7 linked regions of the Homo sapiens genome follow. The protein of the gene in region 7 purifies or fractionates together with the protein of the main gene of each other region. This does not show direct contact. Each region holds a gene or a part of one and is shown on either strand. Other genes may lie near its edges. The genes, in order: LARP1B, MVP, PARP4, GRHL1, TOP3A, BMP2K and MAP7.

The links.
Region 1: the proteins of MAP7 (region 7) and LARP1B purify together in Homo sapiens (affinity purification with mass spectrometry; one large-scale study listed by BioGRID and IntAct). This does not show direct contact.
Region 2: the proteins of MAP7 (region 7) and MVP purify together in Homo sapiens (affinity purification with mass spectrometry; one large-scale study listed by BioGRID and IntAct). This does not show direct contact.
Region 3: the proteins of MAP7 (region 7) and PARP4 purify together in Homo sapiens (affinity purification with mass spectrometry; one large-scale study listed by BioGRID and IntAct). This does not show direct contact.
Region 4: the proteins of MAP7 (region 7) and GRHL1 purify together in Homo sapiens (co-immunoprecipitation; one large-scale study listed by IntAct). This does not show direct contact.
Region 5: the proteins of MAP7 (region 7) and TOP3A purify together in Homo sapiens (affinity purification with mass spectrometry; one large-scale study listed by BioGRID and IntAct). This does not show direct contact.
Region 6: the proteins of MAP7 (region 7) and BMP2K purify together in Homo sapiens (affinity purification with mass spectrometry; one large-scale study listed by BioGRID and IntAct). This does not show direct contact.

What each region holds. Positions count from the first base shown.
Region 1 is NC_000004.12:128,179,812-128,183,311, reverse strand, and holds part of LARP1B (la-related protein 1B), read right to left. Parts: intron 1-3,500.
Region 2 is NC_000016.10:29,837,462-29,840,961, reverse strand, and holds part of MVP (major vault protein), read right to left. Parts: intron 785-3,500; coding exon 503-784; intron 1-502. UniProt on the Homo sapiens protein: Required for normal vault structure. Vaults are multi-subunit structures that may act as scaffolds for proteins involved in signal transduction. Vaults may also play a role in nucleo-cytoplasmic transport.
Region 3 is NC_000013.11:24,509,979-24,513,977, forward strand, and holds the start of PARP4 (protein mono-ADP-ribosyltransferase PARP4), read right to left. Parts: upstream 2,801-3,999; 5' UTR 2,728-2,800; exon of another isoform or gene 2,545-2,727; intron 1-2,544. UniProt on the Homo sapiens protein: Mono-ADP-ribosyltransferase that mediates mono-ADP-ribosylation of target proteins.
Region 4 is NC_000002.12:9,950,289-9,954,492, reverse strand, and holds the start of GRHL1 (grainyhead-like protein 1 homolog), read right to left. Parts: upstream 2,801-4,204; 5' UTR 2,660-2,800; coding exon 2,640-2,659; intron 2,582-2,639; exon of another isoform or gene 2,198-2,581; intron 2,192-2,197; exon of another isoform or gene 2,030-2,191; intron 1-2,029. UniProt on the Homo sapiens protein: Transcription factor involved in epithelial development. Binds directly to the consensus DNA sequence 5'-AACCGGTT-3'.
Region 5 is NC_000017.11:18,308,495-18,311,994, forward strand, and holds part of TOP3A (DNA topoisomerase 3-alpha), read right to left. Parts: intron 448-3,500; coding exon 388-447; intron 1-387. UniProt on the Homo sapiens protein: Releases the supercoiling and torsional tension of DNA introduced during the DNA replication and transcription by transiently cleaving and rejoining one strand of the DNA duplex.
Region 6 is NC_000004.12:78,873,850-78,877,349, reverse strand, and holds part of BMP2K (BMP-2-inducible protein kinase), read right to left. Parts: intron 1-3,500. UniProt on the Homo sapiens protein: May be involved in osteoblast differentiation.
Region 7 is NC_000006.12:136,547,623-136,551,638, reverse strand, and holds the start of MAP7 (ensconsin), read left to right. Parts: upstream 1-1,216; 5' UTR 1,217-1,230; coding exon 1,231-1,297; intron 1,298-4,016. UniProt on the Homo sapiens protein: Microtubule-stabilizing protein that may play an important role during reorganization of microtubules during polarization and differentiation of epithelial cells. Associates with microtubules in a dynamic manner.

The sequences.
Region 1 (3,500 bases), on a different chromosome or scaffold from region 7:
GAGTCAGCCCCATCCCTTGAAGCTCTGAAGCCAAACATTGACTGCTCCTTCCTAACTATGAAAGTCCTAGATGGCTTCTTCTCCCAATAGAAGGCTGTTTTGTCTACACTGAAAATCTATTGTTTAAGGTAGCCACACTTTTTTTTCAGATCTAGACCTGCAGAAATGTAGCCACTTTTATTATCTTAGCTAGATCTTCCTTAAAACTTGCTGCACCTTCCCCATCAGCACTTGCTCCTTCACCTTGCACTTTTATATTATGGAGACAGCTTCTTAAACCTCATTAACCAACTTCTGCTAGCTTCCAACTTTTCTTCTGCACCTCCCTCGCCTCTTTCAGTCTTCAGAGAATTGAAGAGAGTCAGGGCCTTGCTCTGGATTATGCTTTGGCTTAAGGGAATATTGGGGGTGGTTTGATCTTTTATCCAGACCACTCAAACTCTATCCCTATCATCAATAAAACTGTTTCACTTTCTTATCATTTGTGTATTCACTGGAGTAGCACTTTTAATTTCCCTCAAAAACTTTGCCTTCATATTTTGGCTGTTTGACACAAGAGATCTAGTTTTCAGCCTGTCTTGGGGCTTTCAACGTGCCTTCCTCATTAATGATGACATTCCTAATTTTGAAGAATTTTGACTCTTAATTTCACTTGAACAATTAGGGGCCACTGTAGGGTTATTAGTTGGTCTAATTTCAACATTTTTGTCTCTCAGGGTACAGGGATGCCCAAGAAGAGGGGGAGAGATGGAGAAATGGCCAGTCAGTGGAGCAGCCAGAAAACATACAATATTTATTAAGTTCACTGTCTTATCCTGGCATGGTTCATGGTGTACCAAAACAATTACAATAGTTAACATCAAAGATCACTAATCACAGATCACCATAAAATACAAAATAGTAGCTGGGCATGGTGGTTCATGTCTGTAATCACAGCACTTTGGAAGGCCGAGATAGGAGAACTGCTTGAGTCCAGGAATTCAAGACCAGCCCAGACAGCAGAGACCCCATCTCTATAAAAAATACAAAAATTAGCTGGATATGGTGGCATGCAACTGTAGTTCCAGCTACTCAGGAGGCTGAAGTGGGAGGATCACTTGAGTCTGGGAGGTTACGGTTGCAGTGGGCCATGATTGTGCCACAGAACTCCAGCCTGTGCAACAGAGTGAGACTCTGTCTCAAAAAAAAAAAAAAAAAAAAGGCCGGGTGCAGTGGCTCATGCCTGTAATCCCAGCACTTTGGGAGGCCAAGGCGGGCAGATCACGAGATCAGGAGATTGAGACCATCCTGGCTAACACGGTGAAACCCCGTCTCTACTAAAAAAATACAAAAAAAAAAGTTAGCCAGGCGTGGTGGCGGGCACCTGTAGTCCCAGCTACTCAGGAGGCTGAGGCAGGAGAATGGCGTGAACCCAGGAGGCAGAGCTTGCAGTGAGCTGAGATCACACCCCTGCACTCCAGCCTGGGCGACAGAGCGAGACTTCGTCTCAAAAAAAAAAAAAAAAAAAAAAGGACATCATAATAATAATAAAGTTTGAAATATTGCAAGAATTACCAAAAGGTGACACAGAGACATGAATTGAGTACATCTGTTAGATAAAGGGCATTGATAAACTTGCTCAACACAGGGGTGCCACAAACCTTCACTTTGTGAAAAACAGTATCTATGAAGCACAACAAAACAAAGTATACCTGTAAATCCTAGAGGATCAGTAAAAAATAAAAAAGAGACATAACTAATAAGTCAATAGTAGAGATAAAATAGGATCATTATAAAAACTCAATCCAAAAGAAAGCAGAAAAAGAGAAAAAAGAATGAAGAATAGATGAGACAGCTGGGCGCAGTGTGGCTCATGCCTGTAATCCCAGCACCTGAGGAGGCCAAGACAGGTGGATCACCTGAGGTCAGCAGTTGGAGACCAGCCTGGCCAACCTGGTGAAACCCCATCTCTACTAAAAATACAAAAATTAGCTGGGTGTGGTGCCAGGCACCTGTAATCCCAGCTACTCAGGAGGTTGAGTCCTCACCTGAACCTGGGAGCCGGAAGTTGAAGTGAGCCAAGATCATGCCATTGCACTCCAGAATGGGAGACAGAGTGAGACTCAGTCTCAAAAGAAAAAAAAAAAAAAAAGAATGGATGAGAAAAATAAATGATAGATTTAAATCCAACCACATCAATAACTACACTAAATGTGGATGGTCTAAACATACTAATTAAACAACACATTATCAGACTGGGTTATAAAAAGCAAAGAAAGACCCAAATATATGCTGCCTACATTAAACCCACTTTAAAACAAAGAGATTGCTTAAAAGTAAAAAGGTAGAAAAAGATACACTGGCAAACACTCATCTAAAGAAAGTTGGCATAATTATATAAATATCAGACAAGGCTGACTTCAAAACAAGACATTACCAAGGTTAAAAAGAAACATTACTGGTGAGAATGCAAAATGATAGGGCCACTTTGGAAAACAGTTTGGCAGTTTCTTACAAAACTAAATATATTCTTATTATACAATCCAGCAATCATGCTCCTTAGTATTTATCTAAGGGATTTAAAAATATGTCCACACTAAAACCTTTACATAGATGTTTATAGCAGCTTTATTCATAATTCCCAAAACTTGGAAGCAACAAAGACAAGATGTCCTTCATTAGGTAAATTAAACATTTTCCATTGTTGTTGATCTCTACATATACTGCTCCAATAAAAAGAAATACTCTGGGGAAAAAAACTGAAAAATCACTTATAACCCCAAAATAACTATTAGTATACCACAGGTGTGCAGAAGAACATACACACTTTTTATCTTTTAGAGACAATATAGCTAGTAAGAACAATGTAAAATAATCAAATGTGTATCACTAACAAGACAGATTTCAAGGTTTTGAGAGCATGATAAACTCCCTAGCATTTCTTTTCATGAAACTAACTAATCCTTCTTTTCTAGTAACCAGTCAAAAACATATTTTCCCAAAGTTTTCAAATGGAAAAACTATCAGTTAATTATTCTGAAAATATCTAGTATAAACACAAAATGGTTTTTAAGAAACACAGGCTGGGTGAGGTGGCTCATGCCTGTAATCCCAGCACTTTACAAGGCTGAGGTAGGAGGACTGCTTGAGGCCAGAAGTTTGAGACCATCCTAGGTAACAGAGCAAGATTCTGTCTCTATTTTTATTTTAAAAAAAGCATCACAAAGCAACGAGCAATAAATCACCTCTGCAACCCCTCTGAAGGACAAAACATACCATAGTGCTTTGCAGATCACTGGCACTCTAAGAGATTTGCTCTAGACTTCTTCTTTTTTTAATTAATTTTCTTCTTTCTTATAAAAAAAAATTCCTGCTAATAATCAGCTAATCTTAATGATTTTCAAAAAAGGGGGAAAAAAGCAAAATAACAATGCTTCGTTTCCATATTATTTATACAGTTTGAGTTGTTTGTTTAGCACATTAATGTCCTCAATAAATATCTACTAAGAACCTATTAAATG
Region 2 (3,500 bases), on a different chromosome or scaffold from region 7:
AGTGGACATGCTAATATTTTTTTTTGACAGAGTCTCACTCTGTCACCCTGGCTGAAGTGCAGTGGTGTGATCTCGGCTCACTGCAACCTCCGCTTCCCAGTTCAAGCAATTCTCCTGTCTCAGCCTCCCAAGTATCTGGGACTACTCAGACCACCACCACGCCTGACTAATGTTTGTACTTTTAGTAGAGACAGGGTTTCCCATGTTGGCCAGGCTAGTCTTGAACTCCTGACCTCAGGTGATCCGCCCGCCTCGGCCTCCCAAAGTGCTGAGATTACAGATGTGAGCTACCGCACCTGGTTGGTTCTAACATTTCAAATGAGACATTTAAGGCAGAAGGATGGCAAACACTCCACGTAGTGCCCTCCCCCAACCAGACAGCCCACCTGATATGGCTCTCCATGCTGCTGAAGTCCCTGCCCACCTCTTCCACACACCCAGAGGAAGCCGCCACCAAGGCCAAGGCCACGTGGCAGCACTGCTGCTCACTCCCAGCCATTACCTTTCCGGTCTTGACATCCTGCACATAGATGCCCTCGTTCTCGTCTAGAGGGATGGCCTGGCGCTCCTCCACCACCTCCACTTTGGCAGATGGCACATACTCCAGGGGTCCGCGGATGAGCCAGTGGTCCCCAGCCTGGTGTGAGACCTTCTCCTCATCCTCCCCCTCCTCCAGGGGCTGCAGGGCCCTCAGCAGCAGCCCCTGCTGCTCCGACAGCACATACACATCCTGGATGCCTTGTTCCAGCTGCTCTCCTGGCTGGAGGAAAAAAGACTTCTCTCCCTAGTGGGGAGACGTGAGGTTAGGGTCAGTGCCTTTAGGGTTGCGGGTGCTTCCAATGGTACCTCCCCAGTCCTGTGCTGTTTCAGGCCTGTGTGGAGGACAAGAGCACCAGAAGCCCGCCCCCACCCCCACATCATAATACGGTGAGGCACTGTCTGGACTGTGAGGCTCTACACAAACGCCTGCCAAATCTCATCTGGTCAAATGTGTCCTTGAAAGATTCCATAACTGTCAGGACCTGGATCCACGCAAGCTAAACCATTAAAAATCAACCTGTTTTTTCTTCTTTCTCCCAGGCTTTGTTTTCTAGAGATGGTGTAACCTAGGGCTTGACAAACTCTGGTTTTCAGGCCAAATCTGGATTCTGCCTTTTTTTTTTTTTTTTTTTTTTTTTGAGATAGTCTTCCTCTCTTGCCCAGGCTGGATAGTGCAGTGGCATGATCTCAGCTCTCTGCAGCCTCAACCTTCCAGGCTCAAGCAATCCTCCCACCTCAGCCTCCCAAGGAGCTGGGACTACAGATGCGCATCACCACACCCAGCTAATTTTTGTGTGCTTCGTAGATGATGGGGTGTTGCCATGCTGCCTAAGCTGGTCTCAAAGTCCTAGACTCAAGCGATCTACCCACCTCAGCTTTCCAAAGTGCTGGGATTATAGATGTGAGCCACCACGCCCAGCACCGCCTGTTTCTTAAAAAAATTTTGAGATATAATCCACATATGAAATTTTCCCATCTAGAGTATACAATTCACAATTCAGTTGTTTTAGTATACTCAAAGTTGTCCAACCATCACTGCTATGTTAAGTCTAGAGTATTTTCGTCATCACCCTGAAAAGAAATCCTGTACCTAGAAGTTACTGCCACTCCCCACCTACCCCACCCACCACTAGTCTATTTTCTTTATGTGTTTACCTATTCTGGACATTTCACATAAATGGAATCATGCAATATGTGGTCTTTGATGTCTGGCTTTTTTCTTTTTCTTTTTTTGAGATGGAGTCTCGGCTCAGCAGCCCAGGCTGGAGTGCAGTGGTGGGATCTCGGCTCACTGCAACTACTGTCTTCCAGGTTCAAGAGATTCTCCTGTCTCAGCCTCCCGAGCAGTAGCTGGGATTACAGGCACCCGCCATCATGCTAGCTAATTTTTGTATTTTAACAGAGACGGGGCTTCACCATGTTGGCCAGGCTGGTCTTGAACTCCTGACCTCAGGTGATGTGCCCACCTCAGCCTCCTAAAGTGTTAGGATTACAGGCGTGAGCCACTGCGTCCAGCTGGCTTCTTTCACTTAGCATAACATTTTCAATTTTATCCATGTTGTAGCACGTATGTCATTATTTTTTGTTTTTCCTAGAGACAGGATCTCACTCTACTGCCTCAGGCTGGAGTACAGTGGCACAATCATAGCTCACTATACACTCCACTTCCTGGGGTCAAGCGATTTTCCCACTTTAGCCTCCCAAATAGCTGGGACTACAGGTGTGCCACCATGCCTGGTCAATTTTTAAAAGTTTTTGTAAAAATGGGGTCTCACTATGTTACCCAGGCTGGTCTCAAACTCCTGGCTTCAAGCAATCCTCCTGCCTCGGCCTCCCAAAGCACTGGGATTATAGTCATGAGCTGTTGCGCCTGGCCTGCCATTTCTTTCTTATGGCTGAATGATATTCCATTGTATGGATATGCTACAATTTTTTATCCATTCATTATATATGTACATTTGGGTTATTTCTAATTTTTTTTTTTTTTTGAGACAGTCTTGCTCTGTCACCCAGGCTGGAGTGCAGTGGTGTGATCTCGGCTCACTGCAACCTCCGCCTCCCGGGTTCAAGCAATTCTCCTGCCTCAGCCTCCAGAGAAGCTGGGATTACAGGTGCCTGACACCATGCCCAGCTAATTTTTTTGTATTTTTAGTAGAGAAAGGGTTTTGCCATGTTGGCCAGGATGGTTTCTAACTCCTGACCTCAAGCGATCCACCCGCTTTGGACTCGTAAAGTGCTGGGATTACACATGTAAGCCACCATGCCTGGCCTATTTCTACTTTTTCTGCCTCCTGTTTTTGCAGATAAACTATTCCAGGAGCATGGCAGTACTCACTTGTTTACGTAGTGCCCAAGCTGCTTTCCTGACATAACAGCAGAGTTGAAGAACTTCCACAGAAACAATGACTCACGGAGCCTGGAGTATCTACCATCCAGCCCCCTTTACAGAATGAGTTTGGCAACTGCTGGTATTCCCACATATAGTTCAGAGAGGGGATGAAGTAGGGGGTGGGAGAGGGTAAACCAAGAGGTTTATTTTACAAAAGATGACAAAGCAAAGTGAACACCAGGATATTAAAGATGTGAAATATAGTCACTGCATGATAGTTCAGTCCATTACAGACTGCACATGGTGGTCCCGTAAGATTATAATGGAGATTTTTTTTTTTTCTGAGAGTCTCACTCTATCGCCCAGGCTAGAGTGCAGTGGCACGATCTCGGCTCACCACAGGCTTGATCTCCAGGGTTCAAGTGATTCTCGTGCCTCAGCCTCCCGAGTAACTGGAATTACAGGTGTGTGCCACCACACCTGGCTAATTTTTGTATTTTTAGTAGAGACAGGGTTTCCCCACGTTGGCCAGGCTAGTCTCGAACTCCTGACCTCAAGTGATCCACCTGCCTCGGCCTCCCAAAGTGCTGGGATTACACGTATGAGCCACTGTGCTGGCCTATAACGAAGC
Region 3 (3,999 bases), on a different chromosome or scaffold from region 7:
CATGAGCCACCACACCTAGCCCCCACTGTTGATATTTTAATTTTTTTGGTGTTATTATTTCTTGTATCATTGTATTTTCTAAATTATTAATATTCTATATTTAATGTTATAGCCAGTTGCTCTTTACTTTTTAAATAGGACTTTCACTTTCACAGCTTATTTAGCTTTTAGTGATATCCTCCCCATGTCACTAAATATTCTTTGAAGGTGTTTTTAGTGGTTACATAAGCTTTGCGTTTATTTCATCCTTCCCCAAGTCATCAGATACTTGGTTACTTAAAAGTGTTCACTATTGGCCGGGCGCGGTGGCTCACACCTGTAATCCCAGCATTTTGGGAGGCCGAGGCGGGCGGATCACGAGGTCAGGAGATCGAGGCCATCCCGGCTAAAACGGTGAAACCCCGTCTCTACTAAAAATACAAAAAATTAGCCGGGCGTAGTGGCGGGTGCCTGTAGTCCCAGCTACTTGGGAGGCTGAGGCAGGGGAATGGCGTGAACCCGGGAGGCGGAGCTTGCAGTGAGCGGAGATCCCGCCACTGCACTCCAGCCTGGGCGACAGAGCGAGACTCCGTCTCAAAAAAAAAAAAAAAAAAGTGTTCACTATTAGAAATACACTTTAATTAAAATGCTTGTACATATATTTTTTTGCCACATCTCTGTCATAGTTTCCCTAGAGTTGATGGCCAGAAATGGAATTACTGAATCAAGGAGTATAAACATTTTTTAGCCTTTTAAAAATTGTGGTACAGTTTTTAAAACTGTGTGTACAGTTCAGTGGCATTAAGTACATACACATAGTTGTGAAATCAAAGTATAAACATTTTATTTTATTTGAGACAGGGTCTGGCTCTGTCTCCCAAGCTGGAGTGCAGTGGTGTGGTCACTGTCACAGCTCACTGCAACCTCGACCTCCCTCCCAGCAATCCTTTCACCCGGCCTACTTAGTAGCTGGGACCACAGGCCTGCACCACCATGCCCAGCTAATTTTGGTAGAGACAGGGTTCTTACTATGTTGCCAAGGCTGGTCACAAACTCCTGGGCTCAAGCCATCCTCCTGCCTCAGCCTCCCAGAGTGCTGGGGTTACAGGTGTGAGCTGCCACGCCCGGCCCAGAGTAAAAACATTTTAAACATAAATCTGCGGTCTGTTCTTAGCACCTGCGGCTGCGTGGGAGGTATGGAAAGGCGCACTTTGGGTTTCGTGAAATCTCAAGTCAGGTCTTGACTTCTCTCTTTCCACAGATTCATCTCTAGTCTCTGTAAAATGCCAGCCCTCTTCTGGGTTAACAGCGCCTAACCGACATGCGCCACTAGTTCTTCCTTGTTTCAAAGTGTTCTCTAAACACAGAGTTAGTTCATGTTTTCATCAGCGCTGATTACGTACATATGAGATGTGGCGGACACTGGGCTAGGGGCTGGTTATTCTCTAAGGCAAATCTGCACAGTCACTCCAGCCTGTCCCCCTTCCCAGCTTCTTCCCCAAATAACATTCACAGAGTGTCTTCCACCCAAAGACAGCAGGGAACAGCCCCGATTCCTAAGAAACCCTCAGCGCGCCTCCTCACAAACTCTTGGCTGCTCCATAAACCATTGGTGTAGGTGGAATCAAGTGGCTTCCTGCTTCACAGGTCTTCGTCTTTACCACTGGCATTTCCTCCTCTCGGAAAACCCTGAGGAGTCCCTTTCTGGGCAGTCTTGATTCTACAGCCTCCGCCTTCCGAAGTGTGTGAGTCAGCACACGCTAAGATCACTTTTGATATACAGTGGGCATTCAATAAAAGCTTGCTTACTAAAAACTCTCACGTATCCATTAAAGCCCAGGATTACAGAAAAGCCTTCTGACACTATTTGCATTTTGGACTCAAATGGCATCAGTAATGCACCTCCCTAATGGGTTTATTAAACCCTTAAACAACAAAGGTACTACTTTTATTTCACTCCTACATGATATACAGTAGCTCTACGCACACAAACAAGACCTAATGTTTACTTAATAAATGATAAAGTCAGATGTAATGAGTCTGCAACACGCACATCTCAGAGCGAACTTCCCCTTTATCATAGCACTATGCTTGGATATTGTCATATAATTGTTGTCATCCAGCAGTCCAGAATTGAAAGTGCTTGGGCTTGAATATTTAGCAGCGCCTTAGTTTTCTAGAACCTGTGATCTACCAACTCGATCCCTGGGTGAACCATTCGGCCCTCCTAGCAGGAATTACTTAACTGAGTTAGAGGTTTTCAACTTTGGACCTCAACAAACACATTGTTTCTATCACGGTGTTCCCAATGACTCACGAGGTCAGATAGTACTTCCTGATTACTCACCAAACCACCTTACTTTTTGCACAATTCGAAACCTAACTTTAGGAAAGAAGGCCGTTTGGCATACTGGAAACAAGAAACAACGCGTGCTACTGCGAACCGCACCGCACGGGGTGCGGAGACTTGGTGTGACTGTCGGCTCCGGTGGGCGCCCCCCACCGCACCCGGTTTCTCGTCACCAGGGCTGCGCCGCGGGGCAGAGCGGAACGACCGCAATATCCCTCCCCGAGGGCGCTGGCTGCACTAGCTAGTCCACTCCCGAGCCTAGCAGCGCCGTCAGGCCCACAGCGCCAACGCCGCGCAGGGCAAGGGTGCAGCCACTGGCGGGAAAGTAGTACGCGGGCCACTTCCTGGCTAGGACTACAGGGACCTTTGCAGCCCCCCACCCCGCAGCGCCCACGCACCTGCCTAGAGGATCCAGCTAGCTCCGGACGCTCCCCGATTCCGCGCTCCTTGCTCGCGGTACTTCCGTAATCTAGGCTCTCCCTGCCCCCGGGGCTGGGCGGGCGCCACTGCGCCGGAACCCCGCCCCGCACCAGGCGGGCGCAGCGTCCCAAGCAGGGACGATAGCCGGAACGCGCCCGGAATCGGGTCCGCCAGGTGGGGAGCGGGTCCCCGGCCTCTGGCGGGGTTTCTCTTCCAAGATCAGCCGGAGGGTTCAGGGCTTTCAGTTTCATATTTCAGGAGGGATTTTGTCAATGAGGATTAATACAAAGCTCGGCTTTGAGAGAGGTGGGTGGATGGTGCTGTCCTTTAACTGAGAAATGGAAGGGATTCACAAGGCCGGGAAAGAAGAAAATTTCGGGAAAGTTCGTGGAAACAGGAGAGTGAGATAATAAATTTACTTTAAGCCTTCCTGCGTTTGAAATTCGTGACAGTGTAACTAGTTGGAAATATATTTATCTGCCATTCAAGAGAGGCAGGGGGCTGGAGATACAGATCTGAGATTCACTGAAATGGGAATAAAGCAATGGGGAAGATTCAGATTTTTAGGATACTGAATAAAATGAGAATAGAAAGGATAGAGTAGAGAATACAGTGGAAAGGGTATGGGGTTGAATCCTGACTCCACAATTTATTACCAAGGGGGCTGGGGACAAGGTAATTTACCAAGTTTCATCATTACAACCTACTCTATAGGGTTGTCTAAGAAACAACAAGAGATTCTGGGGGAGGAGAGAGACTGATTCCTAGAGTTACCACATCGTAATGCTCAAAATGTCCAATCTTCAACAAAAAATTATGAGGCATGCAAAAAAAAAGGCGAAAAAATGGCCAATTCAAAGGAAAAAAGAAATGAACAGAAATTGTCCCTGAGCTGAGGAAGCACAGACATAGGAATTATTAGACAAATACTTCAAATAAACTGTCTTAAACATGGACAAAAAGTGAAAGGAAACATAGAAAAATAACTGAAAGAAACAACCAGGAGAACAAAGTCTCAATAAATAGAGAATATGCAATAGAAGATGTGCAAATGGTCAACAAGCATGAAAAAAAGCCCAGCATAACTAATTATCAGAAAAGTGCAAATTAAAACTGCAATGAGATACCATCTTACACCAGTCAGAATGGTTATTATTAAAAAGTCAAGGAACAACAGATGCTGGCAAGGCTTTATTGAAAAGGAAATGCTTATACACTGTCAGTGGGAATGTAAATTAGTTGAACCACTG
Region 4 (4,204 bases), on a different chromosome or scaffold from region 7:
TGTTATTCCCTCTTTCTACTGTGGCTGCCATGCCTTAAAAATTCCTACCTGAACACAGTGGGGAGGGGAGAAGCAGCAGAAAGAAAAAGGGATCCTTCACGCAATCCTCCAGGGTATATGAGAAAGCCAGAATATTCTACTGATTACCAGCAGATTGAGCATGGAATGTGGCCAAAGGGGACTGTAAATCAATAAAGAGGCATAATTTTCTGGCATGGGAGTTAACTGTTTATCTTAGAGATAAACACTTAAGGATATCCAACAATAAATGAAGCCACTGAACAAAAAGTTTTAAAAAAAATAGGTGGGAAAATCTGGCTTTTAAAAAATCTTTGCTAGTTTTCCACATTGCACAAGAACTGTTTCATTTTAACACTGTAGTTTGGTGGGAAAAATCCAAAAAAATCAATGGCGATCTTAGTGAAACCTTACAGAAGATTTAATTTAAAAGATTAAAGCAAACATTACTAATTCCAAAAACTTGAAATGTAAACAGTCTCAACAACTGTTCGGTTGGTACTATTTAATAAGTCAATAAAGAGAAAAAATGGAACACTGACTCTAGCAAAACAAAGCAGTTTATTTTCAAGGAGAAAAATAAATTTTAAATGTTTGGAACTCCTCTGAATTATTACAATTCTAACAAGCAAATTGAAGGACTGGCTCTCATTGCAACACACAAATGAAATATGTAAATGGCCTAAAGGTGACCTGCCTATTTTAAAAGTGAATGTAGAAAGACTGATTATCTTTTCAAGTAATCAACAAAGGTTAGCGTTTGGGAGTCACCCAGGGCCTTTAAGAACAGATACAGATTTAGAAAAAGGAGAACATCTTCAAAAAAGGGGAAAAAAATCCAACAATGTATCCTCAGTCAAAATGAAGTGTTATTTGAAAGCCAATGTTTTTACTCACGTTTTGGCATAAACGTTACATTTGGTAAGAAAGTCTTGAGGTGGTATACTATTTTAACACAAAACAAACATAAAAGACTGTTCAAAGCCAGCAGATCATTTGTCTAAAAATGGAGAAGATTGCTTACACAAATCTCAACTTTAAAGAAAATAAAGAAATATACAAAGTGGCATTCCCTGAGCCATCAGGACCAGAGTACAACAGCTACTGAACGGCTGGTGCCATGGACTGATTGACTGATGTACTGCTAAGCTATAATTAATAGCGTAATAGCTACTTCCAGAAGACTATGACAGCACTTGGCTGTTCAATTCCCTTAATGCTAGTTTTCAACTTCCCTTCTTCTCCCACCCACATCCCAAATTTGTACAAGCAATAGAAAACAGAGAAAGAAATGGCTTTATGTTTGGAATCACCCTGAAGGTGTTTCATATTTCCAAAGCCTGCCTAAGGCCAAAATGTTAGCTTTGGAAAATTTGCCTTATCTAAACTATACGTCAAGAAATAAACACAAAACCAGTTGCCTTTCTTAGTCCACTTCCTCATGACAGTCAGGAAGTAGGCTTCAGTCGCCGAAGGCTCATCATCACTTTCAGGTGAGCCTTAAACTCCGCGTCTGCGATCTCTCAGACTTCTGAAATATGTTTCAGGCAATAATTTAACTGCATATTCTACAACATAAGAGTAATCCATTTAAGATACTCCATACAAAATATCTATCTCATCCAGAAAAAGAACACACTGACAAAAACCGATCCTTCACAAATAACTAAGAAACTGGGAGGGGTACCTATCTGCCTTAAACTTCCTGATCTGAAATATACTGACTGGCCTGGTGCGATTTCCCTGTTTTTTCTTTAGTAAGTTTTTAAAATTTTTAGGACAATTTTATATTTTCAGAAAAGCTGCAAAGAAAATACAGAAAACTCCCTCGCCCAGTTAATCCCCCATGCCTTATTACACTACCACCTCACATTTGTCGAAATACGCTTTTAAATCACACACTCTAAAAAGCATATTAGCTTGTACAGTACTTTCTCGTTTAACACCCGGATTTCAAAGTTTCATCCTCTTGATTCTCTCGAGCACTAAAAACACGGTAATCTGTAATTACCATCAATGATGCAAGTGGCAAAATAACTCCTACAGCCGTTTTCCCACTCATGCCGCCAGCCAGGGAAAAGAAAACGCCCGGACATCGGGGCACTTCAACCTTTCCCTACATTTCTGTTTTGGAGGTTCCAGCAGGTCGCCGAGTGACGAGCCTGAGACCACAGATTACCTGGAGAAGTCCACCTGTCCCGACGCGGCGCGAGCCCCACCAGGCTCCCGAGGCCGACCGGGCAGGAGAGGGGGGCGGGGAGGCCCGGGGGCGTTGGCTGCGCCCCGACCTCGCGCCGCACCCGACCGCGCCGGGGGCCCGGACCCCAAGGTGCGCGCCCGAGGGGACCCAACCTGGCCGCGGAGGAGGGGAGGAGGGTGGCCCCTCCGGTGTCGAGTTTCCCCGAGGACAGGGTCTCTCCTCCCGAGGCTCCGACCGAACAAAGAGCACGGCAGGGCTAAGGGGCAAAGGCCGTGGCGGCGTGGAGTGGACAGCGGCCCCCGGCTCGCGCCCCGCGCCCGCCCGCCCGCGCGGCCTCGGGTCTGCGCCCGGCTCGCTCGCTGCAGGTGCGGCCCCTCAGCGCGGCCCCCCCGCGGCGGCCGGACTCCTGCGCCTCACTCACTTGTCGTACTCCTGTGTCATCGCGCCCGCTCGCCGCTGCCGGGCCGCAGAACTGGACTTTCGGGTTGGGACAGTACACCCGATCCGGGGGGAGGAGGCGGCGGCGGCGGCTGCGGGTCCGGAGCGGCGGCCCCGACGGGTTGGGTTTGCTTTTCTCGCTCTGAGCCGGCTCCGCGCGGGCTGCGCGCACTGGGCGCCGGGCTCGGCCGCTCATTGGCTGGCGATGCGCCGGCTGGGGGCGAGGCCTCGGGGCTGGGAGGCCGGTCGCGCCTCCTGATTGGTCGGCGAGAAGAGCGCCGGGGCGGGGCTGACGGGGACGAGCGGCGCGGGGCGGGGGGCGGGGGCCGCGCGTTCCGCGAGGTTGCGCCCGGGACTGCGCTCCCGGGGCTGCGCGCCCGACTCGCGGCCGTACGCGCCTGCCCTGACAGGAGAGGGAGCGCTGCGGCTGCGGCGCGCACCCGCCAACCTCCGCGCGCACCGAGAGCGCCCCCGCTCGCGCCCCGCCACCGCCCCCGCCGCCCCCGCCGTCCCCGCCGTCCCCGGCCATCCCCTTCGCGACGAGCCCCGGCCGTACAGCCGCCTCCTTCTTCGCTCACTCAGGCCTCCGCGCCCCGTGCCCACATTGCCCGCTGTTCCGGCCCCAGCGCCCCGCGCTGCCCCTGCGCTCGCCCGGCGGGGGCGCCTCTGCCGGTCGCCGCGCTCCCCGGTCGCGCGTCTCACCTCTCGGTTCTCGCAGGCTGTCACGCCCGAGTCCCGTGGCTTCCCCCGAGAGCCGTCTCCGGAATGTCCCTTCTCCTGGCCCACCGCGGCCGCGCGCTTTTAGGATTTCTTGCCCTCGCAGCTCCCGCGGTCCCCTCGGCGGCAGTCCCTGGGGCTCCGCGATGTCTGTGCCCCGCAGCCTCCCGGGCGCCACTTCCCCGCGCGGCCGCCCCACGCTGCCCGTGCAGTCGCGCGCCCCGGGCCGGCCCCGGGCACCACTCCACCGCGACGGCCCCCACTTGTCCTTCCCGAGCTGCCGTCTTTCCCAGGGTCCGCTCACTGAGTCCCCACATGCCCAGCGTCGGACCTGACCCTCGGACAGGCGCGGCCCCAGACGCCGGGGACAGGGCAGTCAACAGAACAGACACAACTCCTCGCCTTCCTAGTTGGGGTAACGGGCAATACAAAAACAAGTAAATGGTGTGGCTGGTTGGAAGGTAAAGCAGGCAGGCCCTGGGGAGGCGGGGAGGAGCGAGGCTTTCAGGCTTGAAGGAGATGAGGGGCCACGAAGGTGGGACTGTACCTGAGGCAGGGACCCTGGTGTGTTTTGTGACCCTTGAGGAGACCCGGGTGGCTGGTGGGGCACAGGGAGGCGGGAGCTGCGGTCAGAGATAGTGGGCGCAGGGGAGCGGATTGAGCAGGGCCTTGCCGGCTTCCGTAAGGACTGTGGCTTTCCCTCTGGGCTAGGTGGGGACGCCTTGGAGGGGCTTGGAGCAGGGTAGTGACAGGGTCTCACATTTTAAAATAGTTCTCTGCTGCTGCGTGGTGGGGACCAGGTAGGAGGCCATTGCCATGATGCAGGCCGAG
Region 5 (3,500 bases), on a different chromosome or scaffold from region 7:
AGAGGGAGGAGCTTCTATTAAAGACATTTTTAAAAACCTGATTGGGAAGAAATAAACATAAATATAAGCTCTTCAAAGCCAAAAGTCACAGGAATACAATCACCATTCTAATGATATGGTGTATAACTGACGCCTCTTGCATCAGTTAAATTTTCCTCAAACTATTGTATATTAGCTTTTTTTTTTTGTAATGAAGAGCTGAGATGGGACCATATTTTATTAAAAAGAGAACTCCTCATAAATTATAAAGTGATCACCCCATATCCAGGAACCTTTAGGTTGTTAACAGTTGTTATTCTTAAGACAGCGACATATTCTACATATGACGAGGCTGACTACTTTCTCTTGCTTATGATTGAAATATTTTAGAAATATTTTAGCACCTACCTGGCCATACAGATGATAATCAAATTCATAGATCTTGTTGAATTTTGAAAGTCCTTCTCTCTATAAAACAAAAATAAGTAAAAAATATAAATTACGTTTAAAACAATGGATTCCTTTGTATAATTCTTTCTGATCCTGAATTTGGCAATGATTTCTTGGTTATGATACCAAAAATATAACCAACATTGCTCCAAAGAAGATAAGAAATGGCCAACAAGCATATGAAAAGATGCTCAATGTTATTAATCATTAGGAAAACACAAATCAAAACCATGATGAGGTACCACTCCATACCCATTAGGATAATAATTAAATAGAATAATAAAAAAAACAAGTAAAATAACAAGTGTTGTTGAGGATGTGGAGAAATTGGACATTGTCAGTGGAAATGTAAAATGCTTTGGCCACTCTGGAAAATGTTGGTGTTTCCTCAAAAAGTTACAGAGTTATCACATGTCACAGCAATTCCACTCCTACAAATTTACCCAAAAGAATTAAAAACGCATTCAAATACACTTTGGGAGGCTGAGACAGTTGGATCACTTTAGGTCAGGAGTCCGAGACCAGCCTGGCCAACATGGTGAAACCCCATCTCTACTAAAAATACAACAATTGGCCAGGTGTGGTGGTGTGTGCCTGTAATCCCAGTTACTTGGGGAGGCTGAGGCAGGAGAATCACTTGAGCCCAGGAGGTGGACGTTGCAGTGAGTGGAGATGGCGCCACTGCACTCTAGCCTGGGTGACAGAGCGAGACTGTCTCAAAAAACAAAAAACAAACAAAAAAACACATTCAAACAAAAACTTGTACATGAAAGTCTATAGAAGTTCTTTTTTTTTTTTTTTTTTGAGATGGAGTCTGGCTCTGTCGCCCAGGCTGGAGTCCAGTGGCGTGATCTCGGCTCACTGCAAGCTCCACCTCCCGGGTTCACACCATTCTCCTGCCTCAGCCTCCCGAGTAGCTGGGACTACAGGCACCTGCCACCACGCCCGGCTAATTTTTTTGTATTTTTAGTAGAGATGGGGTTTCACCGTGTTAGCCAGAATGTTCTCAATCTCCTGACCTCGTGATCCACCTGCCTCGGCCTCCCAAAGTGCTGGGATTACAGGTGTGAGCCACCACGCCCAGCGAATGTCTATAGAAGTTCTATTCACAATAGTCAAAAGATGAAAACAACCCAAATGTCCATCAACTGATGTATGGTAAAATGAAATATGATCTATCCATATGATAGAATATTATTCAGCCATAAAAAGGAATGAAGAGGCCAGGTGCAATGGCTCATGCCTGTAATTCCAGCACTTTGGGAGGCTGAGGTGGGCGGATCATGAGGTCAGGAGTTTGAGACCAGCCTGGCCAACATAGTGAAACCCTGTCTCTACTAAAAATACAAAAAATTAGCTGGGCGTGGTGGTGGGTGCCTGTAATCCCAGCTACTTGGGAGGCTGAGGCAGGAGAATCGCTTGAACCTGGGAGGCGGTGGTTACAATGAGCCGAGATCTCATCACTGCACTCCAGCCTGAGCGACAGTGAGAGAGACTCCTTCTCAAAAACCAAAAAAAAGGAATGAAGAACTGATATTAATACATGGTACAACATGGATGGACTTCAAGATTATGTTAAGTGAAAGAAACCTGACACAAAAGAGCATGTAAGATATGGGTCCACTTATAGGAAATGCCCAGAACAGGCAAATCCATGGGGAAAGAAGGCAGATTCGTGGTTGTGAGGGGCTGAGGAGAGGGTAAGGGGAGTGACTGCTTAATGGATATGAGGCTTCCTCTTGGGGTGAAAAAAAACCTTCTGGAACTAGATAATGATGATGGTGGCACATTTAGTGGACAAAATTCCACTGAACTATATACTTCAAAATGATTAAAATGGTCAATTTTCTGTGCATTTTACCACTCAACCTACATGGCTCTCTAAGATTCTTATGATCTGCACTCAACTGCTGCTCTTGCTTAACTCATCGGTGTCTCTTCCCACCACACCACACCCCTAACTTCTCACTGTTTCTGAATATGCCAAGCAGTTTCAAGCCACTAGGTTGTTCTTTACAGTTTCTACTGCCTGGTAAAACTTTCAGGCTCAGCTCAAACATGCATTCAACAACTATGAATTTTTTTTTTTTTTTTTGAGACAGAGTCTCACTCTGTTGCCCAGGCTGGAGTGCAGTGGCACAATCTCGGCTCACTGCAAGCTCCACCTCCCGGGTTCATGCCATTCTGCTGCCTCAGCCTCCCGAGTAGCTGGGACTACAGGCGTCTGCCAGCATGCCCGGCTAATTTTTTGTATTTTTAGTAGAGACAGGGTTTCACCGTGTTAGCCAGGATGGTCTCAATCTCTTGACCTCATGATCCGCCCACCTCAGCCTCCCAGAGTGCTGGGATTACAGGTATGAGCCACCATGCCTGGCCTAATTTTTTTTTGAGATGGAGTCTCACTCTGTCGCCCAGGCTGTAATGTAATGGCGCAATCTAGGCTCACTGCAAGCTCCACTTCCCGGGTTGAAGCGATTCTCCTGCCTCAGCCTCGTGAGTAGCTGGGATTACAGGACCCCGCCACCACACCTGGCTAATTTTTGTATTTTTAGTAGAGATGGGGTTTTGCCATGTTGGCCAGGCTGGTCTTGAACTCACGACCTCAGGTGGTCTGCCCGCTTGAGCCTCCCCAACTGCTGGGATTACAGGCATGAGCCGCTGCGCTCAGCCCAAGTATTAATATTTATTGAAAGTTTCCTGCATTCCAGACACCATATTAGGCGTTAGGACATAGCAATTAACAAAATATAATCACTGTCCTTTGGAGTTTAGAGTCCAAGGAGAGGCAGTGACAAAAATCAAATAAATGATCGCACATCCCATTATTTAACTGTAACTAGTAGATGCCTTTCAAGTAGAATAGAGTGCTATGACAGCATGTCAGTAAGGGTCTCTGACCTAGTGTGGGGGAACAGGTGGTGAGGGAAGGATTCCTTGAAGATGAGACATTTCAGCAGCCTCTCTCCTCTAGCCGCCCCAGATGCCAAAAGGAAAGATGGCCAAGGGGAAGAAGTGGCCCTGGCCCCTGTTGTCATGGAGCAGCAGTAGGCCAAAAAGGTGGTAAATCCCAT
Region 6 (3,500 bases), on a different chromosome or scaffold from region 7:
TTGTACATGTTTGTGTTTTGTGTTATAACCAAAGAGTCAAAATGTTTTTAAATTTTCAAAGTTTATAAAGTAAAAAAGTCACAGTAAACTAAGGTTAATTTATTATTGAAGAAGAAAAAAATTTTATATAAATTTAGTGTGTTCTAAGAATGCAGTGTTTATAAAGTCAAGTCTATAATAGTGTACAGTAATGTCCTAGGCCTTCACGTTCACTCACGACTCACTCATTGACCCACCCAGAAAAACTTCCAGTCCTCTAAGCTCCATTCATGGTAAGTGCCCTATACAGATGTACCATTTTTAATCCTTTATACAATATTTTTATTTTACCTTTTCTATGTTTAGATACAAAAATACTTACCATTCTGTTACAATTGTCTATAGTACTAAATATAGTAACATGCTATACAGGTTTGTAGCGTAAGAGCAATAAGCTATATAATAAAGCCTAGATGTGTAGTAGGCTATACCATCTAAGTTTGTGTAAATGCACTCTATGATGTTCATACAACAATAAAATTGCCTAATGATGCAATTTCTTAGAACATGTCCCCATTGTTATGCAATGCATGACTGTATAGCATAAGAACGAGACAATGTAAGAAAGCTATTAAGTTCCTTTCATAATTCATATGCAAATCCTCTTAACAGTAGTAATGAAGGGAGAATCCTAATGTTCAAAGTAGTATCTCAATTTCACAAGTCTTAACTGATCCCCTAAATTTACCTAACCGTTGAGAGCTCATTGCCATTGCCACCAAACAGGTCTTAGAAGAGAAAAGAAAGGCAAAAGTCGTCTATTTAATCCCTTAGTCCAAGCCCCTTCAGCATATCTGAGCCAAGAATAGGATACTTAAATACTTACTGAAGGCTAGCATATAACAGAGGAAAATAAATAGTAAGTTACCTACAAGTAAATAGACTTGCTTAGTAAATAGAACTTAGGTATCTTAATTTAAAAAACAATTCAGTTTAAAGTCCATTCTGGATGCATTAACTGCCAGTCTGAGCCTGCCTCTGTGTGACAGAGTCCCATCTCTCCTTAAAACACAGATCAGATGTTTTTACCCAGAAAATTGAAGGAAAAAAAAAAACAGATCACAGTGGGTAAAACTCAAAGAGAGATGGGCATCCCCCCTCCTGTCTGTCAATCATTCCTTTTAGAACTTTCGGATTCCCTATATGAATCACCCTCTTCCTATTCCCAAAATAAATTTATGGATTCCTATTGGCAGACTGTAACTCAATAGGGTTATCACCTTAACCTAGTTTAAACAGGTATTAAAAAATGTCTACAAGTTATCTGACATTCCTCCCTTCGAAGGGTGAAACCGAATTTCACTGCCCTTGAACATGAGCTAGATCTAGTGACTCAATTCTAACAAATGAAATATGGCACAAGCAGCAGCCCATGACTGCTGAGACTAGGTCTAAAAAGACATTTCAGATTCCTCCTTGCTCTGTCTCTTGGATCACTTATTGAGGGAGAAACCAGAATCAATAATTCCTTGTTCAAAATAATTTTTGCCTTGGCAAAGAGAAAACTCAAGCAGTCTTTTGAAGAAATCCATGTGGCAGGGGACTGAAGCCTCCTGCCCAAAGCCATGTGAGTGAACTATCTTGTAAATTACATCCTTTATCACCAGCCAAGCCTTCAGAGGACAGCCGACCCAGCCTTACCAGACACAACCACCCTGTTAAGCCACCCCTAAATTTCTGATCCAAAGAAAGTATGTAAGATAATAAATGTTAACTGCTGTTTTAAACCATTAAGTTTTGAGATAATTTATTAGGCATCAACAGATAACTAATATAACAGGGCAATTATATCATAAGAAGATAACGTATGCATAGATGATGTTTATTTTAACTATTATTGGAATATAACACAGTAATACTCTCTGATATTCATACTAAAGATAAATTAACATGGTGGAAGAGTAGAAAGTTTAGCAAAAGATAGTAGAAAAGAAAAGGAAATAATTATTCCAACAAAGATAGTGACTCTTTCCCTCTGTCTAAGGAACTACTACTTGGTTTCTTATATTCTACTCAAATAGCCCTTATCCACTGAGAGACAAACATTTAACCCCAATTCTCTTCTTCCACTGACTTTGTCATAAGCAGGAACATTAGTTTAGAGCTCTTTTTAAATTGTTACAGAAGATACTATACTCAACATACAATCTGATGTTAAATAGGTATAATATTAATGAAGTAGCATTGACGTACCAAGTGTGGCTGGAGCAATGTTCCCACATGAAGTTCCACATTTCTAACCTTTAGTGGCTGAGTGTATAATTTTTTCTAACACATCCTTAAATACATAAATTTCATAGGAGTGGAGTAAAACAAGTCTTATGCACTTTCCCAGATATGCAACCCAATATTTCCTAACCTGGGGAATGCAAGATGATTTTTGTGATAACTTATTTTTTAATAGTTACACAGAAATTAAAAGAAAAGTGTCTAATGTATCAAACCTGTGATTTGTCGAATAGCATCACTACAAATGAGAATAAAGCAGACAGTGCTATAGTAATTAATATACATTACAGGCATCAGCACCTTGCATGCCAGTGTATGCCTCAAATCCTTGGATATCCAACTTTCTTTTTAACTAATCAGAAGTTTAGACAGATTTCCAATTCATCATCCCATTCTCAACAGTGACATAACTTTGCTTCCAGGAGCTGACAGACTTTTAGAATATGAAGTATACACAATATATATGCTACGTCAGAGAAGACAGTTAATATCTTTTCTATTTTCCAACTAAATAAACTAGATTTGACATTTTTTATGCTAGTTAGCATCAAAAGTGGAAAAAAGCAATCATCTAATTAGTACAATAGCCTCATCAGTATCTTTAAGCAATTATCAAGCAGAATATCTGATTTTTAATGAGGAAAATTATTCCATTCTTATCACTAGGGGACTTAGCAAATTTATTAGATTACTATTTACATTTCATACTTTATATTTTAGTGGATCTTATTTGTTTAAAATGTATAATATGTTTTAATTTTATTATACACAATAATGTTACTAATTTATTAAAGAAAAAAGCACTATGTGAATAAAGCAAAAAATTTTAACTAGAGTAGATAAATGACAAAGAGTTCGGCAAATACTGATCTGAACTTTTTGTGTGTGTGTGTGTGTGTGTGTGTGAGATGGAGTCTCGCTCTGTTGCCAGGCTGGAGTGCAGTGGCATGATCTCAGCTCGCTGCAATCTCTGCCTCCCAAGTTCAAGCCATTCTCCTGCCTCAGCCTCCCAAGTAGCTGGGATTACAGGCGCGCACCACCACACCTAGATAATTTTTATATTTTTAGTAGAGATGAGGTTTCACCATGTTGGCTAGGATGGTCTTGATCTCCTGACCTCGTGATCCGCCTGCCCTGGTCACCCAAAGTGCTTGGATTACAGGCATGAGCCACCGCACCCTGCCTGATCTGGACCTTTAAACTGGCCTTTGACCTATACTCTGCTCTCTCCT
Region 7 (4,016 bases):
ATTCTAAATGGTCAGTTTGCCTATTCCATTATAGAAATGACACTACGGGAAAATTCATCATCACAGACCACAGCAGAAGTGTTCTTTAGTTAAAGCTCTACCTAGTCATCCAGAAAGCCAGTAAGTAAACCAAATAAAAATAGTTCACTGGGCTCAGAGTGGCAAGTTTTGCATGCAAAGATCGTGAAAATTGTAACCCTAACAATAAATCCAATACTGTTCTCGACTCTCTTGTGTGTCCAGTGCTGCTGCAGTCCTTGGAAGGCTTTTAAACTGTTCAGAGCTTGCTGGTTATCTTCAGCCAAGCCAGAGAGTGGGAGTGCAGTGCATTTTAGTGTAACCATGCGGAACTGGTCGCTCCTTGATTTTGTGCCGTATGTTTCCATTTGTGTAGGCTTTTTCCCCCCTCAGTATTTTGTTGCTTATCCTTTAGAGCGAAATTGGTTTTTCCTCGGCCAATAATCTGTTTCTTTAAAAAAAGAAAAATTCGTTACCTATTGCCTTTTTTTCTGGTCTTCCTGAGCAAGCCAGAAGTCACAAGGTCGTTTACTAAACGGAAACTAAGAAAAAGAAAAGCCACATCAGCCGGCACAAGCCTCTCTAACTTGTGTGCCCTGAGGCTCATCAGATGCGAAGTCCTGGCGACAAGATAGGGTCGCCCGCAGTGGCTTCCTAAAGCGCAGATCCAGGCCGGCTCCCAGCGTGGAATCCGACCCATGTACTTCGCCTCTCCACGTGGCATCAGATGCTCTGCCGGCTGTCACCGTGAACTCCAGCCCTCGCGGAGCCGACACTGACCTGGCTACTTCAGAGTTCGGAGGGAAATAGCGTCTCCGTACCCTCGCCCCACCTGGGCTGCTCCTCGGACCGCCGCTCGTCCCAGACTCCAGGAGGCGCCACCAGGCCTCGCTGACCCCGCTCCATATCTCCGGGAGCCCTCAGCTGGTCGGCCGCGGCGACCGGAAGCTCCGGACTGAGGTACTGGTTCCGCCCGCCGCTCTTCCAGCCGAGACTCGGCAGCGGCGGTCGGAGCGGCTGCCACGCCGCACCTGCCCGCGAGGGGGCGCGCCAGGCCCAGGCCGCAGCCGACTGCCGCGCTCTCTGTCCCCGCCCTCCGCCATCCCCGGACTGCGCTCACCTGTCTGGGCCGCTGGCCTGGGAGGCGGGGGCCGGCGGGAGCCAAGCCGAGGAAAGGGCGGAGCGGCTCTCCGGGCGCGTCATCGGAGCACCATGGCGGAGCTAGGAGCTGGCGGCGACGGCCACAGGGGCGGCGACGGCGCAGTGCGAAGCGAAACAGGTGACCGCACAGCGGGGATAGTGGGGGTCCCGTCGGGCAGGGGACGGCGAGCGGGGCCGGCGGGCTGGCACCGAAATCACCCGGCGCCGGCAGCCCCCTCCCCGCCCGCGCGGCCGCGGCCCGGAACAACCGGCCCTGCGCGCCGCGCACCCTGCTCCGAGAGCGCCTTCCCCCGCCCTTCGCCGCCGCGGCTCGGCCAGCCCGGCTCGGCCCCGGCCGGGGTTGCGGCCGCCCTCGGGCGCTCCACCGCGACTTTCCCGCAACAGGTGGAGGCGAGCCGGGGGAGGAAACGGAGAGACCCCGGCCGCTGCCCTCCCCGCCGCGGCCTCGGGTCTAATTCAGTTGAATGGGAAATCGTATCCCCCAGACCAAACCAGTGGCCAGAGAGTCGTCGGCCAGGTGCGACTGGCAGGACGAGCAGTTTCTGGGCACCTCCTCCCGCCTTCCCTGGTCGCCCCGGGTGCCGGGGGCTCCTCAGCGGGGTCGGTGTGGGGCAGGACCGCGGGGTGAGCGGCCCGCCCCCCAATCTGGTGCCCGCAGTGGCGACGACCGTCGTCCGAGGGGACCGAGCTCGGGAGGGCCGGGGCCCAGTGCAGCACGGTGGGGGTTTGCGAGTGCGGGCTTGACGGGATCAGACTTTCGTTGACTTGTCGGAGTTCTCAGAGTTTTTTGTTTTTAGTCTGTGCAGGAGCCCAAAGGAGGATTGTTGGCTCTGCAGCCCGGGATTTGGTGGTCAGGCCTCTGTGTTGAGGATACCCCTCCCCCACAACCTCCAGGGGCACACTTAGGGACAGGGGATCACGTCCCCAAGACCAGCAGCAAGGCTTCCCAAGACCAGCAGCAAGGCTTCCCAACCCCGCCCATCTCTCCATAGTATGAAGCCGATTTTTCTCCCTCGTGATTTTTTTTTCTCCAGAGGCTATCTTGCAAATCCGTCCCTCTCCACTGGTTCCCTCTTCTATTCTTGGCCAGTAAGCTGTTTCTATATCTTCCTACACTTGGGGATGGGGGCAGTGAGGCAGTTTCTTACTTTAAAAAGAAATTCAATTCTTAGACTCTCCAATTGCAAGCTGTTTTCCACTTCCATACGGTCACAATCGGAAGCATTTGTTTCCTAAATGTAAGAATCACTGTCTCCCCACCATCAAGTATGCTTATTTTAACGTGAAAGGTCCAGAGAGCTCTGAAACAGTATTTGCAAATTATGTATCTGCTATTGCTAGGAAGAGGTTGGGTACGTAAAGTCTAATGATTTAATCCCTTCAGCCAAGATACCTGAGGTTAAGACTGACAAAGTATCTTGAACTTGTTTAAGTCATGCTCCTTCCTGTAGGGAGTTTGTCTTAATGTGTTCGCAAGATTGGTAGATCATTATTTTGTTTTGGGGTGGAGAAGAGATGCCTTTGTAATTGCTTTCGGGAATTTGATGAGCTAGACGCTGGGACGGGGCTCCCCCAAGTGAGGGCCCCGGGAGAGGAGCATCCTCATTTGTAAATATACGGCATGATTTTCGTTCCTAACCCTGACCCAGTAACTGCATGTGAAACAACATTGTTCTAGCGAGCTAAGTGTTAGTTTGTGCTCAAAAATAAACTTTCTAGAATCTGCACGTGAACAACTTGTTCAGACATAAGTGAACTGACTACAAACTGTAGGATATTCAGTGCCTGAGCATGTTAAGGAATAGGCCGTGCTTCCAACAATTAATATACAAATCAACCATGTGCCTGTCAGTGTAATATTTTCTTTTATTAAAAAGGGAGTTAAATTGGCTGTTATCTCCTTCATAGAAAACATTTCTTCCACACTTTTGCCTAAAAACTTCATTTTCCAAAGGACATTTTTTATATATGGTCTTGAATAATTATACTTTATAATTTCACTGAAAACTTAATTCTGGCCCCGCATCTCTTTCCTATTTTTCTACCCCAAGATTACTATTAATGTTTTTAGTGTTCAGAAGCATTTGTGTCAGCAGGTGCCAAAGAAAGAAGGAAGGTGTAAATGTATTTTTTTGAATCTAGGTGGTAGTTATTTTGAGAGAACAAGTGAGATTGTTTGAATTTCAACAACTTAAGTTATTCCATATATTTAAAACACATGACCTATATCTGAATATGAGACTTTAATTTAGCACTTCATTCTGGTGAACATATTTCACATTATACACATCCAAATACTGCAAGTCTCATTTTTTTAAACAATCAGAAGTTTGTATGGAATTGTTGGGGGGGTGGGGGGGGGTGGTGGTGGTGGGTGGCCGTGGACAGAGAAACTATTACCATCAAGAGTTGAAAATTGCCACCTTAAATGGCAACATTTCTTGAGGGATTAATTTTATTTCTTTTTAGAACTCATTATTATGAGGTAGAGTCCACTCTTAAATAACTCTTAGTTTTTGGGTCTCTATACAAAGACTGGTCTAATTTTAGGGCACTTTAGATGAGAATATCAGGTTATTATAAAAATGATACCTGTAATGTGTTCAGAATTATATGTGTGAGTGTGTGTGTGTGTATATGTGTATCAAAGATGAATTGACAGTGGTGGCGTGTGGCCTATGAAATGAGACCGTTCTTAAGCATATTGAAAGCTATTATATAAACCCAACATTTAAAAACCCTATTTCTGTGGGTATATATTCTCAAAGTTAGTCAAATCACATTCTTTGTGGCGAAAACATTTATTTTTCTTGAGGATGAAAAGTTCTTCCAATATA